2 separate regions of the Homo sapiens genome follow, and region 2 is linked to region 1. Evidence: fine-mapped expression QTL. Tissue or cell type: whole blood. Region 1 holds a variant in brackets; the other region holds the start of a gene. All regions are shown on one strand. Distances are between the middles of the regions.

Evidence for each region. PIP is the estimated chance that this variant, and not a neighbour inherited with it, causes the effect.
Region 2: TP53TG1 starts here. The variant in region 1 is fine-mapped to the expression of TP53TG1 in whole blood (TOPMed, PIP 0.93).

The regions. Positions count from the first base shown.
Region 1 is chr7:87,151,333-87,159,652 of GRCh38, forward strand. It overlaps DMTF1 (cyclin D binding myb like transcription factor 1), which reads left to right and starts at 1,121. Exons shown (of 18, transcript NM_001142327.2): 1 at 1,121-1,223. It overlaps DMTF1-AS1 (DMTF1 antisense RNA 1), which reads right to left and starts at 1,161. Exons shown (of 2, transcript NR_136253.1): 1 at 970-1,161; 2 at 91-326. RefSeq lists enhancers at 191-754, 670-909, 755-1,316 and a silencer at 4,532-4,661. The variant A/G (reference allele first, on the strand shown) is at 5,294.
Region 2 is chr7:87,341,187-87,349,506 of GRCh38, forward strand. It overlaps TP53TG1 (TP53 target 1), which reads right to left and starts at 4,306. Exons shown (of 3, transcript NR_015381.1): 1 at 3,857-4,306; 2 at 337-498. CROT (carnitine O-octanoyltransferase) reads left to right here and starts at 4,478. Exons shown (of 18, transcript NM_021151.4): 1 at 4,478-4,581; 2 at 5,154-5,244; 3 at 7,862-7,997. The coding sequence starts at 7,883. RefSeq lists an enhancer at 587-656 and a silencer at 4,294-4,503.

The DNA of each region.
Region 1 (8,320 bases):
TACTTATTAAAAAATGGAATGATACACGGCTTAACTCCAACAGAATGCAGAGTGCCACAAATTAGTAATAAAGTTATCAACACAAGAAAATGCTGCTTCTGAGATTTATTTTTGAAAATTAGTCAAACATGTCGATCCTCCAGTAAAGCAAAGCATTTGTAAACTGGTTGTAATCATTTGTTTTCGTTATGAAAGTACTGCCAAAGTGTATTTTGTGAACTGCAACCGGGTAGTTCAGAACACAGGCTTTGGAGCTGAGGCTTCAATTCTAATTCCACCGCCAACTTGGGAGCCCTTGGACACATTCCTTCACTTCTCTTTGGTTCCTGTGTAAAATGGGATTCATTTGTAATAATTGTAGCGATGCACTTAGAACTTATGAACATTAAATGAGTTTAATATACGTAAAACATTTACCTGTCACATACGCACTCAAAGAATGCTGGCTCACATTACAGAACCCAAAGGCTTATTTATCCTTTTCGTTTATAAGGGTATTAAAACGCGTTTTCTATTTAGGATGGGTTTATACGGCTGCAACCCAAGGAGCATCTGTACTTTTAAGAGGAACTGGGCACAGCAAAACAGCATCTTCCTAGTCTAACAGTGAGACTACATTCACAGAGGACACATTTCATCAAGAACGACTTAACACGCCCAGATATCTCATATTATGCCCCTGCGGTAAGGCAAATCAAGTATGAAGACACACACTCCCTGTTTTCTTCAGCACTGAGATCACTGGTTCCCTCCGTTCCACACCGCGGCTCCCTCGGCTCGGAGCCACAGGGAACTATGAAAATCGGCACGCGAGGCCTAAGTGTCCCCAGAACCAGAGGAACCACAGTTGCGTCATAGCAGAAGGACCTCTTTTACAGCATCAGCAGTGGGATAGTCAGTGCCGAGTTTTCCTGGCAGGACAGCCGACAACCACCGCCACAGACCAGTACAAACATTCCAACCCAGGACCTTTTTTCGCGCGCCGACACAGCCGGAAGTGACGCGTACAGCCAGCACGCTGGGCCGCCAGCGGGACAGACGAGCGGGAGGGGCAGCGTGCGGGGAGCTGGGGGCGGGGCGCGGCCGCAGCTCCGTTTCCGGTGGCTCGTCGCGCTCGCTCACTCCAGCTGCAGCCACTCTCGCCCGTGGCTGCTTCCTCCATCCTGGTATTTTTTGGAGCTTCCATCCTGGTTCTTCCAAAGTGCCCGGACCCAAAACAGGAAGTAAGTGCGATGGAACCTTCAGGTTCCAACCGCCGCCAGGGCCGCTCCGCCCAGTGGAGCCTGTCCGGCCCCCTTGCTGCCCGCTAGCTCCCGCCGGCTGGCGCAAGCTGTCGGCGCCGGGGCACTGCGGGCGGGGTCGGAGCCTGGCCTTCCTGACGTTGCAGCTGCCGTCCCCGCACGTTCCGGCCAGGGCCTCCCTCTTAGGGCCGGGCGGTGCCCGTGGCTCAGGCTGCAGAGTAGGGAAGCGAGCGGCTGCCGAGGCACAGCGGCGATCCGGCGGGGGCGGAAAATGGCGGCGGCTTCGGAGGAGCTAAATGGCGCCGGGACCCCTGGGGGGTGGGGTGGGCCGGGAGGTTGAGTAGAGAACTGGGCCAGAAGGAGTGGAGACAGTAAGGAAGCCCTACTTGTTTTCTCGTGGTGTTCTATTTTTAGTTTTTATTTTTGTTACGTTTTCGGTTTTGTTTTATGGTCCAGCGTAGGAGAGGTAGGCTTGGGTGGGGTCGAGAGAGTGGGGGTGGGTCTCGACCCAACTTCCCCCCCTTTGCTTTTTTGTTCTTTTCCCTCGTTTGCGCTTTAGATTCTTCTGTAATTTTGCGGGGGTTCAGCCTTGCTCGGCGATTCACGGCCCAGACATAGAGAATCGGGATAGCTGGCCGAACCGTCTCTCTCAGTCTGACTCTCTTTAAAGAAGGGATGTGGGCTGGGGCGCGGGGACAGTCCTGGTGGAGCACGGAAAATGCGGCTGTAAAGTTGTAATTACCCTATTGTGCCGAGTTCCGAGAAAGTTCTTAAAATTGTTAAGTCCACTTTGTTCTCTAAAATGTACTTCGCTTTGAGAATTTCTTCAGGGAGGTATGTAGAATGTTTTACCACAATCTCCAGAGCAGATTTGAGAGTAGAAGTGGCCAAGTGCCCTTTTGTGCAATTGAATGATAGAGCATATGTCTTTATATAAAATACTCGGTGTAGATAAGGAAAAGGATAATAGTATACAGTATGAGTCAGGACTCCTCCCTTTCTCTCATTGAATTTGTGTAGTTGCTTTTTTCGCAACTCATTCATCTTTGTGTACCTCTTTTTAATGTACATGGATTTGATTATGTGTGCCTCCTTTCTGACAGTCGAGGCTGCATGTTGGGACGTCCTACAAAATGCATATTCTGTGGAATTATTTTTTAATATGACATGTCTTAAGCTTAAAGTGACGCCATTTGGAAAATTTTAAATTATACCTGTATTTTTAATTCGTGGGAGAAAACCATTTGTAGCTTTTAAGCTCCAAATACGAAAATATTCTTCCACTATGTTGAAAGTATTGCAAAATCTGTTTTTTTCAGTTAAGGGTTTTCATGTTTTTTCATTACTTCAAATTTCTTTAAGCTGGTTTTGAAATTATATTTCAAATAGCTTTCTGAGGATTACTGTCTTTTAATAACTTGAATAATTTGCCATCACTTTAACATTTAAAGAATGACTATGGCGATACACCAAAATCTTATCTTTTTGCTCTTATGGTGTACTTAGAGACAGGATTTCATGTATTTGGTTAGGATTTAGAAATTCTGTTAAGATTTAGAGAAAAAAGGTTAAAGCTACATTCCTTAACGTTACAAAAATTGTCATGCTGAGAGAATCCAATTTGGTGTGAGAATAATTTTTTTCTTCCATACAGAAAGCACAAAAACCAGCCTGATTGTATCTGGAAAAAACCATTATGTTACAGGTGTGAAAAATACATTTCATGATTGTGGTGATTTTTATCTCATTTTAACTCTCGATACTAGGTGCTTCTGTATGCCACCAAACAAGCTAATTTTTTTTCTTACTATTTTAGTTGATAGGCTCACCCCAAAATATGCTTTTGGGGACTGATTTAGCACCTGCATATTCTGCGTGAATCTCTTTAATTGGTTGCAGTTGAGCTAATGGTGGAGCCAAAATGCTATTGCCCTGTCTTCATCAACATTTAATCAGTAAGTACTGGGCATTGCATCTTTCTTAGAACTTTAAGTTCATACGTTGCAGTTATATGAATACATTATTTTATGTAAACATTTTTCTGAGTGTTCAGGTTTTAGAAGTATTTTGAGGGGAAGAAATCAAAGTTTGGGCGTTATGACTTGAGCTTTGAAAACAGCATGGTTGGGAAATGTTTACTGGTGGAGACTCATATCAAAAGTAGATAGCTGTCCTCTAGTCCTTTTTTTAGAGATCTCTTTTTTCAATCCTTTAGTTATCTCATTACACCCCAGGGGTGCTTTAAAGGTGGGGAGATAGTGTATGTATTTTATAAGGTTAGTTTGATATCACTGGTTAGTATTTAAATAACAACAAAAAACTTGCCTTTACCTCCTCCGCAAAAAATCTTACCTTTCTATTAGCCTCATTTATCTCTCCAAAATCTACAGACTCTAATTTTTATTAATGGTGTAATAAACTTACATGTCCTGAAAATAACATCTCATTATTTTAAACAGTTGCCTTTGCCATGCTTCATTAAGTGCATTGGCTTAAATTAACACCTGTGAGGATGAATGGGATAATGTGAAACAAGTATTCCTAAGGATTTACTGCCTGGCACATAGATGTTAAAATATTGAGGGAGCTTAGAAGTGTTTTTGAAAGTATTGACGTCTTGCATCACTTGTATTAAACACACATCTGTCTGTTGCAAAGACATCAAAAGCTTAGAAAGGAACAAAGTTTAAGGAGGGTTCATTCTACTTTTTTTTATATCTTATGTAGAGACTGCATATTTAACACTGAGGTGGTGTTCTGCCTTTCCAAAATGGAGTTTTCCATTTTAATAGTCCATTTTTTTTCTTACCACCATCATATTTTTCCTATATGAAAGGATTTCCTAGGAATTGATATACTTTTAAATGCTTTGCAATTGCAGCTCCTTTATGTCTCCAAATGATACAAGAAGACCCGAGAAAGTGGTAAACTAAATGATTTTTATTAAAGTAATTGCCAAATATTAAAGATAAAATATGGATAGTTACCAAATGTATGTGGCGTTTGTTTACTTTCATGTCATTTCTCCGTTTATCTTGATGGTGCTTTCATTTTGTGAAGAAAATTCCTGTAATAGAAATCACAAATAGATTTTGTGTTTGCTTTGATTCTATAAAGGTAGATAAGTTTAAATAAAAGGAGGAACGTGGTTGTGTCTCCCCCACCCCACCCCCGCCCCACCCAAGTTTGTAGAAAGATAATCCATTCCATGACTGAGTACTAGAAATAAGTTGTCAGAGAAAAGCACACTGGAGAGCTCATTATGAACAGTTTAATTTTCTATCATTTCATATATTTAAATGTCATTTTGATTATGTACACTGTTAGGTCATTCTTCCAAGCACCAGTGGTCAAAGCTGATTCATTCACTTCCCATCAGGTGTTACGTATCAGAAATGCTCATTAGGTTTATTTTAGTGCCGGTGTATATTTTAGTATCTAATGAGTAAATGTGCTTTAAAAATTAACTTCACTGTAAATCACAGGTGTCTGGTGATACTGTATATGTCCATGTAAAGAGCCTCTGATGGTGCCTTGTAGAAAAGTACTCAGTTTTGAAAGGATGAAATCTTTCAAGTGTGGCGAATAACACATTGTAAGCTCCTGAACCATGCATGAAGTGAAAAATAACATTTTTGCTTTTTGAATAAGCAATATAGTTTTATTGTCAAACCAGATATGAAATGCTGCACCTTAAAATCCTTGCTATTAAGTAATCCTCCTTACTCAAGTAATAGTGACATTGTTTTCAATAGTTGGTAATTGAAATCAACAAAGCCTGCTAGAATAGACTCCACTAACAGCTCTGTTGACATTTTTATGATATATAATCATATTTTACCATCTTAAAACCAAGCCATAGTAAACATTAATTAGGTACCTTAATTGAATATGCCTTATGTTCATTTATGGCTCTGCTGCTCAAACTTTTCCACAAAGTATATAGAGGAACAAATCCCACGGGGCCTGGCACCATAGTCCAAAACATTCTTCTTCAAGTGTGTAGTGTTCCTATTCGTATCTTGAATAAAGTTTGTGCTTATGAAGATGTT[A/G]TGCTTATTCTATGACCTTACCTCTTGTCTGACAGCCCTCTGTGTACCCATGTTTAGGATGTATGAATTTGTTACCTATTATCTTCCACTAAGATTTTCTACTAAGCAGACTTTCATTATTTCAAAATAAACATATCTTAAAATTTATCTTCCAAATTCCTTAGACGTTACTAAGCAAATTCTCTTTTAAGTAGTTTTTAAAGCATTAGTTATACAATGATAGAGTAATAGTCCATTTGGAGTTTTATAATAACATAGCTACAAAAATGTTGAGTAATAGGTACGAATTAGATAAATTTAGATCTATGTGCTCATTCAAAATGTAAAGTAGTAATGATACTGGAAAATGCTCCTGATACAGTAAGTACAAAAAAGTGTGACAGTATGATCTTGTGAAAACAGTAAAAGATAGGCATGCTGATAACATGGGTAGAAGACTTGCAAATCACATAGAAAGAACATGAATGATTTTTCTTATACTGTATTGGGTCAGGAGAAAAAAACATCTGAAAACTGTCCTTACTGCCTTATTAGTTGATCTATGCCAGAGACTGTTTCTCAGCCTGTGTTTCTCAGTCTTTAACTCACCTAACAAAATTGTGGTGCTATATGTTCTGTAGCTTGCAAGATTTCACAGTATAAAGTGAGTGTATTAAAATAGGGAATGTTTTATATCATGTGGTCTCATCCCATGTTCCATTTTAGAATCACAGCTCCAAGCCTCTAGGGTCAGCAAATGTTGGTTCCTGTGCTGCTCATGATTGCCACTAATAGCATCTAAACTCTTTCATACTTGTATCAGTACTGTAGTTGGAAATGAGTATACAGCTGTTTACAGAATTAGCCCCCAAAACTGGGAAGAAAGGTGACTTTATTCCTTGATTCTGGTTTTTAGAAGATATTCAACACTTAAATGCCCAGAAAAATCAGGACGATAGGTAGACTCAATTGATGGAAATACCAGTCTAAGATAACCCATTGGATAAGAACTTTACATCAATACTGAAAGGAAGAATAGCATGAATAACTCATTTCTTTAATTGAATTCTGTGTTAAATAACAGATCCAAGAGTTATTTCTTTATGCTTATCCCTTTTCGTTCTTCCAGGCTATAGTATATTAAATAGGTTCATCTTTTTCATTGGGAGCTATAAGGTTATATTATAATGAAGACACAATAACTCCATTATAAGAGTTTTGTACCACACTTAAGGTTATGTGTTTTTTTTTTTAAGCCACCAGAATGGTTTTATTTTTGTCATTGACAACATGTACAAACCTGCAATTGTATAATTGTTTTGTTTGGTTTTTAAAATACTAAGTACACATTAAAAGTATGTTTTAAGAAATATGATGCATTAAAGAAGTTCACTGTAAACATAATTCTCAATGTATTTTCCTGCCTTGTTTCATGCATAAATAACAATCTAAGTAGTCATAAATAAAACTATCAACTTTTGTGGCCCAGAAGTATATACAAATTTTGAAGTTTGGCAGAAGGTGTTCTGTATGGTTTTATAAATTAAAACGCACAGCATTTGTATTGATTATTAATGAAATGACTTATCCCAAGTCCTTATTGTATCCCAACCTGTTCTGTCAATAATAAACGTTCCAATGTACTTGGTAAAGATGCCACATGTTTAAAAACTCAATGATTAAAATAATTCTAAAAGGTAATTTAAATAGTACTCAGTCTTATTAAAACCACTTCAGCTTGTCTGAAAAAATGCTTCTAAGGAGTGAATTCTGTACCATTATTTAAATGGCATCTAACAAAATCTAAAATTTAAGGAATAAATCAAATACATTTTAGTCTTGCAAAAAAACTTCATTGAGATTGTTACAGGAACAGAATGCTATCCTAAGTTTTCTAAAATTTATTCTTGAGTCATCAATGAGTTAAAACTTTAAGAGTTATAATAATTTTAGAAAGCCATAATTCTTGATGCAGAACATGATTAGTTTTTAATGACCAGAAATTATTTCTTCAGAAAGCATTAAATAACTGTTGAAACGTACCACCTATCTAGTGATTTATCAAGTAATCACTCAAGATTTATTAAGTACACATTTAAATTTTAGGTAATAAAAGTCAACTGGAATTTTGTACATTTCACTGTATTTCATTTTATACTTTTTTTAGGTCTTCATTTATAGGGTATAAAACTTAGAAAACATTCTTAACCAGTGTCTTCCTTAGAGTTAAATGATTCAAACAACAAGTAATGCTAAGCTAAATGCTGTCGTTAATACTGAAACCTAAGTTTCTAAAAGTTGTATTTTTCAATCAATACAAAAATGATCTGGCTCACTGTAAACTGCCTAACTTTAAAAAACTATTATTTGTTAAACAGCAGATTACAAGAAATGTTTCCCCTGTTCTTTTAAAAAACAAGATTATGAGATACATAATCTAAATAAAAATTTACAGATGGTGGTTGAAATCCTGTCAACTTTCAGCCCAGTGTAACAAATTCCATAGTTATGCATGAATAATTCAAAATTAAAGTTTTTAATGGAAATGTCAGTAAGGCATATAACTACATTTGTCAGGCACATGATAAGACTAGAAAATTAAAGCTATCAAAGCTATAAATAAGGAGTGCATAAATAACAGCAATGCCAAAACATTAGGGCTGTTAAAATTTAAACACATCTGATAGTTCTTTCTGTAAGCCACTCTCCACTGATAAAGCTATGGATAAAACTTAATTCCTTGCACAGCTTTCTAATAACTGATGATAAAGCTGAATTCCTTGTTCATAAAGCTGTACACCAATAGAATTTTCACATCTATTCAAAATTCTTGAAATCTCAAGCAGATCGTCCATGGTTTTCCTAACTGCATTTGGATTTGCTGCTACCCTCAGGTATTTTTTTCTTTAACGTGCTAAGGTATTGTGCTATTTAAAGATACACAGCAAATGATGAAAACATGCAAAAATGCCACTTCAGTTAAAATGGCTGTTAAAATTGTGTTTATTTTTCTTCTGTATCTTCTCGTTTTTAGTGTAAAAATAGTAC
Region 2 (8,320 bases), 190 kb after region 1:
CCCATGGTTTCTTTAAGTCTTAAATGATGCCCGCTCCAAGCCATCATCCTAACCCCCACTCCTCCACTCCCGCCCTTGGCCAAAGCATAGATTGTAACCCCCTGCTACTCTCTGAGATTGGCCTTTGATGAGGAATTCAGGGCTTTCCCCATATCTTCTCTCCCCCACCTTTATCAAGGGGCGCTGCTTTTTCTTCCCTCCTTCTCAAGTGTCTTTTCGCACCATCACCAACCAACACCTTCCAAGACACTTCCTTGCTTTGGCCAGAAGCCATCAGGTAAGGTTGGAAAGAGTCTCTGACCTCCCTTGTTTAGTTTTAGAATCTCATTTACTCACTCTCCGCCAGCCTGGGAAATGACTTTGGGTCCTCAGCCCTGCCACTCTCTGCTGTCATCATCAGCTGATGCATTGGTTTTAGCTCAGGTTTTGATAAGGTGAAGAGAATTGTTACCAGGGTTACTCAGACCTGCCAGCTCTCAGAGTCCTTGGTGGTTAAACCTGGAGAAAGAGCACATGAAGACACTTGAAAGCACATATGATCCCTCTGCATTGTTTCATTTTCTTGTAATTGCTTTCGCTTTTAAAAATTGAAGAAGTTTTAAGCAGGGCTCTCATTTGGTCATCCTTGCAATCCACTGGGGTCTAGTTTGGAATCTCACAACTGGAACAAAAAGAACCTTGGATCCAGTGCATGCCTTGGTTTTGGTGCTGCTCCTGCTTCTCAAGATCCTCAGCAGGGATTAAGAAAGAAATTGGGGTACACAGCAGATCCCTGAAATTGGCAGACTTGACCTCCTGGAAAAATTGCTGTGTTTTTCACTTTCTGTTCAGGACCACTACTAAATGCTGAAATGTGGATGCATACCAAACTAAAAGTGATTCGTTGTGTACTAAAGTTTTTTAAAATTATTTGTGTAAAATCATCTTTTGAAGCAGAATCAAGTCTGAAAAGCAACTGATGTTTCCATTAATCTTTTTCTGGGGAAAACCTCAGTTCTAAGGATTTAGCATCCTGTAAGTGAAGTTTAACATAACAGTATTCCATAAGCAGCCTTTTTATGGTCAGACCATTGCCTAATTTTAATATAATTTTAAAATGTGTGCATTAATTAAAAAATGGGAAAAGGATCTTAATAAACATTTCTCCAAAGAGGATATATAAATGGCCAATAAGCACATGAAAAAATACTCAACACTCTTAGTCTTCACAAAAAAATGTAAATCAAAACCACAAGACACCACTTCACATTCATTAGAGTGGCTGTATTTTTTTTAAAAGACAATAGCAAGGGCTGTTATATTGTTATTGTAACTAAAGGCACAGAGAAATTGAAACTCATATTGCTGGCAGATATGTAAAAACGGTACAGTTCCTTTGGAAATCAGTTTGACGGTTTTTGAAAATGTTAAACATAGAGTTAACATACGACCCCACAACTCCACTCCTAAAATACTAATTGAAAGCCTGTTCACACAAAGCTTGTACACAAATGTTTATAGTACCATTATTTAAATAGACAAAAGGTAGAAACAACCCAAATGTCCATGAACTGATGAATGGACAAACAAAAAGTGGTTCATACATTCATCAGTCAGTTGATGAATCATGTTTAATGCCTGTTGGTAACACAGAATTTAGAGCCACTTTGCTTCACTCTTTTCCCAGTCTTGTTATTTATTTCAATGGAAACAAAATGTTCCTGTAAAGATGCCTGGATTTTTGGATATAGAAAAAGTTGTGGGACTGAAAAAAATGAGTGGAACAGAGATTTGAGTATGTAGAAAATAATCTTTTTAAATATTTGAACCAAATGTTCTAAAATTAGCTTATGGTGACTGCATAACCCTGTGAATATAGTAAAACCATTGATTTGTGGACTTTAAATGGCCGAACTTTATGGTATGTAAATTATATTTCAACAAAGATGTTAACAAAATTTTTAAATGTTATATTTTGTTTAGTAAGAAGGTATTTTTTTCTGAGATGCAAAAACATCATAGTTATCTTAACTCTTCCCCTCAGATTTTGGTGGCAACTTTTCATGTACTGTAAATATCATCAAAAGCAACCCCAAATCAATGATTAGTACTAAAAAGAGACCTTTTGTATCAAACACTGTTCATCTGCTGTTGGCAGTGGAGTTCATTTTTAATGCTACATTGCCCTCTTTGCGTCCAGTGTACTTTAATTTGCTGTTGGCTGCTTCCCAAAATGACCATATTTCTACTGCCCCCCCATTAAAAAGAAGAAACATCACAAAATTATTTCTTCAACATGTTCATTTTATACATCAGAATGAAAGGAGGTTACAGGTCTCCCATAGATTAGGGCTATTTACCATATCTCCTTACTTATTAGAGTCACAAATCTTAGCAGGAAGCCAGTTATGCAGATTGAAACATGAACTTCTTAGTCTAGCATTTTAATACTTTTTAATGGTGAAATTTATCTAGACTTATCTATAAAGTCTTTTGCAATTTGTGGTATGCTGAGTAAGAACTACAGAAGAACAAAAATAAAAGATTTTTTTAATGGCAACTTAAAAAATTATCACCACTTGTACTACTTACAAATTTTCCTCCAAAAAGTTACTTTGACTCATAGTCAATTTTTAATCTTGGAACAACTTCTTGCTATCACAAATACTTCAAGTGCCTAAAACATCTTCCTTACCAGCCAATATCTCCCGCTCCACTCTAAGAAATGCAAACTCGTTCAAGTTTAACCTGAATGCAACATAATTTGGAATCTTTCATTAAAATATATATCACACATTTTGAAGCCAAACATATTTTAAAATACCTGTTTTTGGTGATTTGGGGTACATATGCTTATCAGTATAACATATTTTAAAAGATTTTTTTCTACATACTCAAATCTGTGTTCCATTCATTTTTTCACTCCCACACCTTTTTGTCTATCCGATAATTCAGGAATCTTTACAGAAACATCTTGTTTCCATTGAAATAAACAACAAGAGTAGGAAAAAGAGTGAAGCGAAATGGTTCTAAATTCTATGCACCAACAGGCATTAAACATGCATAAACTTTTAAAGAGATGCCAAGACTCACTAAAAAGGAGAAAAAAAATACAACGAAGGTTTCTGAGTAGTTTTTAGTTACTCAATTTAAAAACTTTATCTTGTAAGCAAACTTTAACATCATCCAGAGCATCGCACTTATATATGAAAGAAAAAGTTCTTTATCACACCTTCAGAAATTACAACTACAAATTCCTAATCCCTTATTTAAAATCTTTTTGGCTAGATATGTTTCAAAATTCAGAACTTTTCTTAGAATAGTACGTCTGCCATATATTATGAAACACTTCCAGCAAGCTGTACTGTAATCAAACACAATATTTCTGTAGAAAACTTATGAATATTTACACAAAGGGAACATTCAGTTACACATAGCCTCACTTCCCTTCAGGTCAAACTTTACTGCTAAAGGAGTTAGAAACGACAGACAAAGGAATGGGGCCTGTCATGACATGTTAATTTGAAATCTAAATCTTTATCTTTGATAACTAGTTCAGAGTCAGTGTAAACATTTGGTCTTTCCTTCCACAAAAAAATGAAACAGTGTATTTAAAATTAAAAATGAAACAGTATATTTTATTTCAGAAGGTAAAAGCAAAATGAATTAATCTGTGAAACTAAGTCAATCACATTATGATCTTCTAGAACTTGGGTAGCTCCACTCTGGTTAAAGATTCCATTTCTTGGCACAACAGTAAAAGACATCAGATAGGCCCGGGGGTAAGCATCCCTGGGGTATTCAAATAACTTGGGTAGCAATGAAGAGCTGCAGAAGAGCAAGGAGACCCGAGATGATGTAGTGTGCTGCGGCATACCTGAGTTGGGCAAACTCAGCCTCCGAAGATTAAAGGAAAGAGCCCAAGTAGGAATCTGTGTGATCACTGTTCTTTTGCCAAGACACGGGGTGGACAATAAGATTCCTTTACAAAGCACTGGTGTAAGTGTTCGCCTGGTGCTGCAAAAAGCGGCTCACTGGGAATGGGGAGGAGCGTGTGGTAAGCCAGACCTGCGGCGAGAAGTTGGGTGAAAATGGGTCTTAACCATCGCTTCCTGCATCTATCCCAGAGGGTTGGGTACCTTCGTGGGCGGAGCGCGGCCTGCCCAGAGTGCCTTCTAGATCCTGGGTCAGGCGCCAAGCTCCCCAGCATCATGCAGGAAGCTGCAGCCCCGCAGAGTTAGGACAGCTCATTTGGCACCCGGCGAGCCCTTCCCAGGCCCGCAGCCCAGAATAGAGCCGGGGCCCAAGACGCCCACTGGAGACAGGGTCGGGTCCCACTACCGCGCAGGCCCGGCTCGCCCCCGACGTCAGGCACGGGGCGGGACCCTTGCAGCTGTCCGTCCAGTCCCGTTCCCCGGAAAGTGAGGGGCGGGACCCTCGCGGCTTTCTATCCAATCCTGTTCCCCGGCGAATGCGGGGCGGGACCCTAGCGGCCTTCAGTCCAATTCCCGCACCTTTGAGGCCCAAGGGGGAGCGAGCCGGTGCTGCTGCAGGCTGAGGCTGCGGCAGAGGCGGCGAGGCGCGGGCGGTGAGGACGGACAGGTCCGTTGAAGCAGCATTCCCTCCCTCCCCTAATCCTTCAACTCGGGGGCGGGGGAAAGTTAAGTCGTGCAGAACCGCAAAGGTGCCTGGATTTGGTGGGGGAGTAGTGTCATCAAGCATCTCGCCTGCTGGGGTCTCAGGGGTACCCTCAAGGTTGGGCCGCGGGGCTGCTCCGTTGTAGTGCTTAGATTTCTCTCACTTGATGGCCTCTTGAGTGCAGAGTTGCTCTTGGGTTGGTGGGAAGAGCCTCCGAGCTCTCATTGCCCTCTGCTCCTGCTTCTACCCCTTGCCACTCTGCGACGAACCTGTTACCCAGCCACTGAAAACGTATCCTCTACCCTTTGAACCCGTCTAATGGAAGGTGTACTTGTCTGAAACCTACTTAATTGTATGATCATTTACTCCTGCTCTCTAGCAGGTGGACTATTTGCGTGTGTTTGCAGTGATTCACGAAAAGTTTGTCTTGGGAACTCCCAACTCCTAGTTTGTCTGCATTCCACCTTCTTTCACTAGCTTGTTCATTTCTTTTTCCCTCTTAAATATTTGTTAAGCTTGTTTCTTTCTTCCCACAGTCACCGACTTAGTCCAGTTCCCTGTGATCTCAAAACAATTGTTGCAGCAGGCTCCTGGCAGTCTCAAGCAGTTCATCTTCTTGGTGTACTGGTATGTGACAATTCCTTCACGTATTGTTCGTGGTTCTTTTCCACTTTCTGTGAATTCATATCTAATTGCCCCCAGAAAGTCAATTCTAATTAAATCTAGCATAATCATTTTCTTAGTGCTATTGGAACCATCTTATTTAACTTAATCTTTGTGGTTGAGAATTCAAGAAAACTCTTCAAGAAAGAATCCAATAATTTATATTTTTAATGTGTACCGGTTGGTGGGTTAAGCACTATAGTGGGTATGTAACTAATACTCTTGCTTCCAGTTTTCTAGAGTCTATTAAGTGGCACAGAGGTAAACAGAATAGCTTATCTTCTCTGTATGTGTGTACTAGTCTTCTATTGCTGCCTTAACCAATTACACAAATGCAACAATTAAAACAACACAAATGTATTATCTCATAGCTTCTGTAAATGTGAAGTTTGGGTGGGCTTAGCTGAGTACTTGGCTTAGAATTTCACAAAACCGAAACCAAGGTTTCTGTAGATTTGGATTCTTTTCTGGAGGCTCTAGGGGAGAATCCACCTCCAGGCTATTTCAGATTGTTGGTAGAATTCACACTGACATTTCTATATCCTTACTGTTTGTCAGCCTGAGCCTCTTTCAGTTCTTTAAGGCCATCTGCATCTTCAAAGACACCACAAATCCTTCTCAAGCATTAAAGCAGTCTTACTTGTCTGCCACTGGCCAGAGAAAGCTCTTTGCTCTTATGGACTCAAGTGATTAGATTAGTTCCAATTCGATAATATCCCTATTTTAAGGTCAGTTCTGTAGAGAATATCACAATCACAGGAGTAATGATCTCACCATATTCGCAGGTTCTGGGGATTAGCAGGGGTGGAATCTTGGGGGCCATTCATAGTAATTGTGCCTACCACAATATGGTGGTTTCAGGCAGGATTATTTTGTTTTTATAATGTGCTTTCACAGGCATTGAAAACAAATTCTGACTTTATTGAATTGTATGATTAACCACTCTAAGATAAGGAAATTCACTTAAAGTTGGTTGCCCTAGGGGCACATGGCTAGAAAGTGGCAGAGTCTGTACTTGGATCCAGATCTACATTTCCATTAGGTACAAACCCATTTTTATGGATGGTCAAAATGGTGTGCAGCCAAAGTCAATAGATAGAAAGAAGCTAAAGAACTTTGAGTTAATTATTATTTCTCATTTTCAAATTATCTCTTTATATTAGTGGTACAGGCTAAGCTCTTCTCCCTACAATAGAAAGCCCAAAATACAATGGTATGAATAAAATAGAAGTTTTTTTTTTTCCATACATCTAGAGGTAGGAGTCCAGGACTAGTAGGGAGATTCTGCAATCCTGCATATATGACTTCCATAAATGAGGCCATGGTGCTGTTTAGTTCGTCACTACCTAGCAGGTAGTAAAAAGGAGGGAAAGTGCAGGGAGAACACATGCATTCCTTTTTGGGAGCATGACCTGGAAGTGACACACACAAGGTCATCACAAAGCCACACTGAGCTCCAAGAGAGGGTAGGAAAGATAAAACTGGGGGCTGTATGCACAGCTACAACTCAGGATTCTGTTAAAGCAGAGGAAAACAGGTATTAGCTGAAAATAGTCTCTTCTGTGTCCATGTTTTTGATAGTGTTCGATTCTGTAACCTATGAGTGGAATACTTTGTTTAGCGTTGCTATCAGTTTTAAAAAATAGTTTTTGAGAGAATAGGAAGTTCAAATTCAATATTAACGTTCTTTGATTTCTCAGTTGCTATTTTAACATATAATTACATTTAATATATTACATTATTTAATATAATTAATATATGATAATTTACAAAGGCTTTGAGAAACCTCATTTTTTATTTAGCATTTGTATACCTTATTCACATTTTGAGTTAGATTTCTTTGATAGCAATTAATACACGTGTCAATATGTTCAAGATTGCTTTGGAACACTTGAGACCATTCTGTGTAGACCTCATACGACCTGTGCAATTAAAGCAGCTTGTCATATGATTTATGTATTCTATAATAATCTTTAATTCTACAGTTGGACACTTCCACACCTCTTTGTACTTTGTGCTCCAAAGTTTTCTATATCAATGCAATATCAACACATAATCCTTTTCTATACATCAAATACTATCTACCCACTAAGATTTACTGCAGGTTCCCTTACCTTCTATCATGTTGTTTTGTATAGGGGAAAGATTGTAGTCTTAACAGATCTGGGTTTGGGTCCTGTGTTTGACATTAGGTAAGTTACTAAATTTCTGAGTTTTGATATATTCATATGTAAAATTGCAAAGAATGCCACCTTTCAGAGATAACATAAAAGTTAGAGAGCTAACACATGTTTTCTGTAATGCAAACTGGAGTACCTGGCAAATGCTAGGTGTTCAATAAATGGTAACTAATTATACCAGTCCCACTGATCACTCTTTACTTCTAGCACTTTGTGTCTACACATTCTTTTTAAGTTGGTTTTCTCTATCTGACAGATTTATAAATTTCATAAAAGCTGGTACCAAGTCCTAGATATGCTGTGGTCCCTAAATACTGGTTTAGTGAATTGTGAATTGTACCTAGGATACGTAACACTATCTATGAGATTGAAGTTGTGAGGGCTCTCTCTCTTTTCTTTAGGTTTCCTATTGTGATTTTATCATGGAAAATCAATTGGCTAAATCAACTGAAGAACGAACATTTCAGTACCAGGATTCTCTTCCATCACTGCCTGTTCCTTCACTTGAAGAATCATTAAAAAAATACCTTGAATCAGGTATGTTAATAATCTTTTAGTATATATTAATATTATTAGTAACTTAGAAAACTGTGATACTGTTGCTGGAGAAGGGGTCTCGATCCAGACTCTAAGAGAGAGTTAGAGTTCTTGGATCTCTTGCAGGAAGGAATTCAAGGTGAGTTGCAGAGTGCAGTGAGAAGAGACAGTTTATTGAAAGCTTCTCCATTATAGAGTAGGACATCCTCAGAAAGCAAGCAGACTGTCTTTAAGTTTTTCTTACATAGGGGTCTTATCGATGTAAAGACTAAGCTGTGCCTATGTGAGGGTGAGCAGACAGCATGACAAAATTTATTATTCTG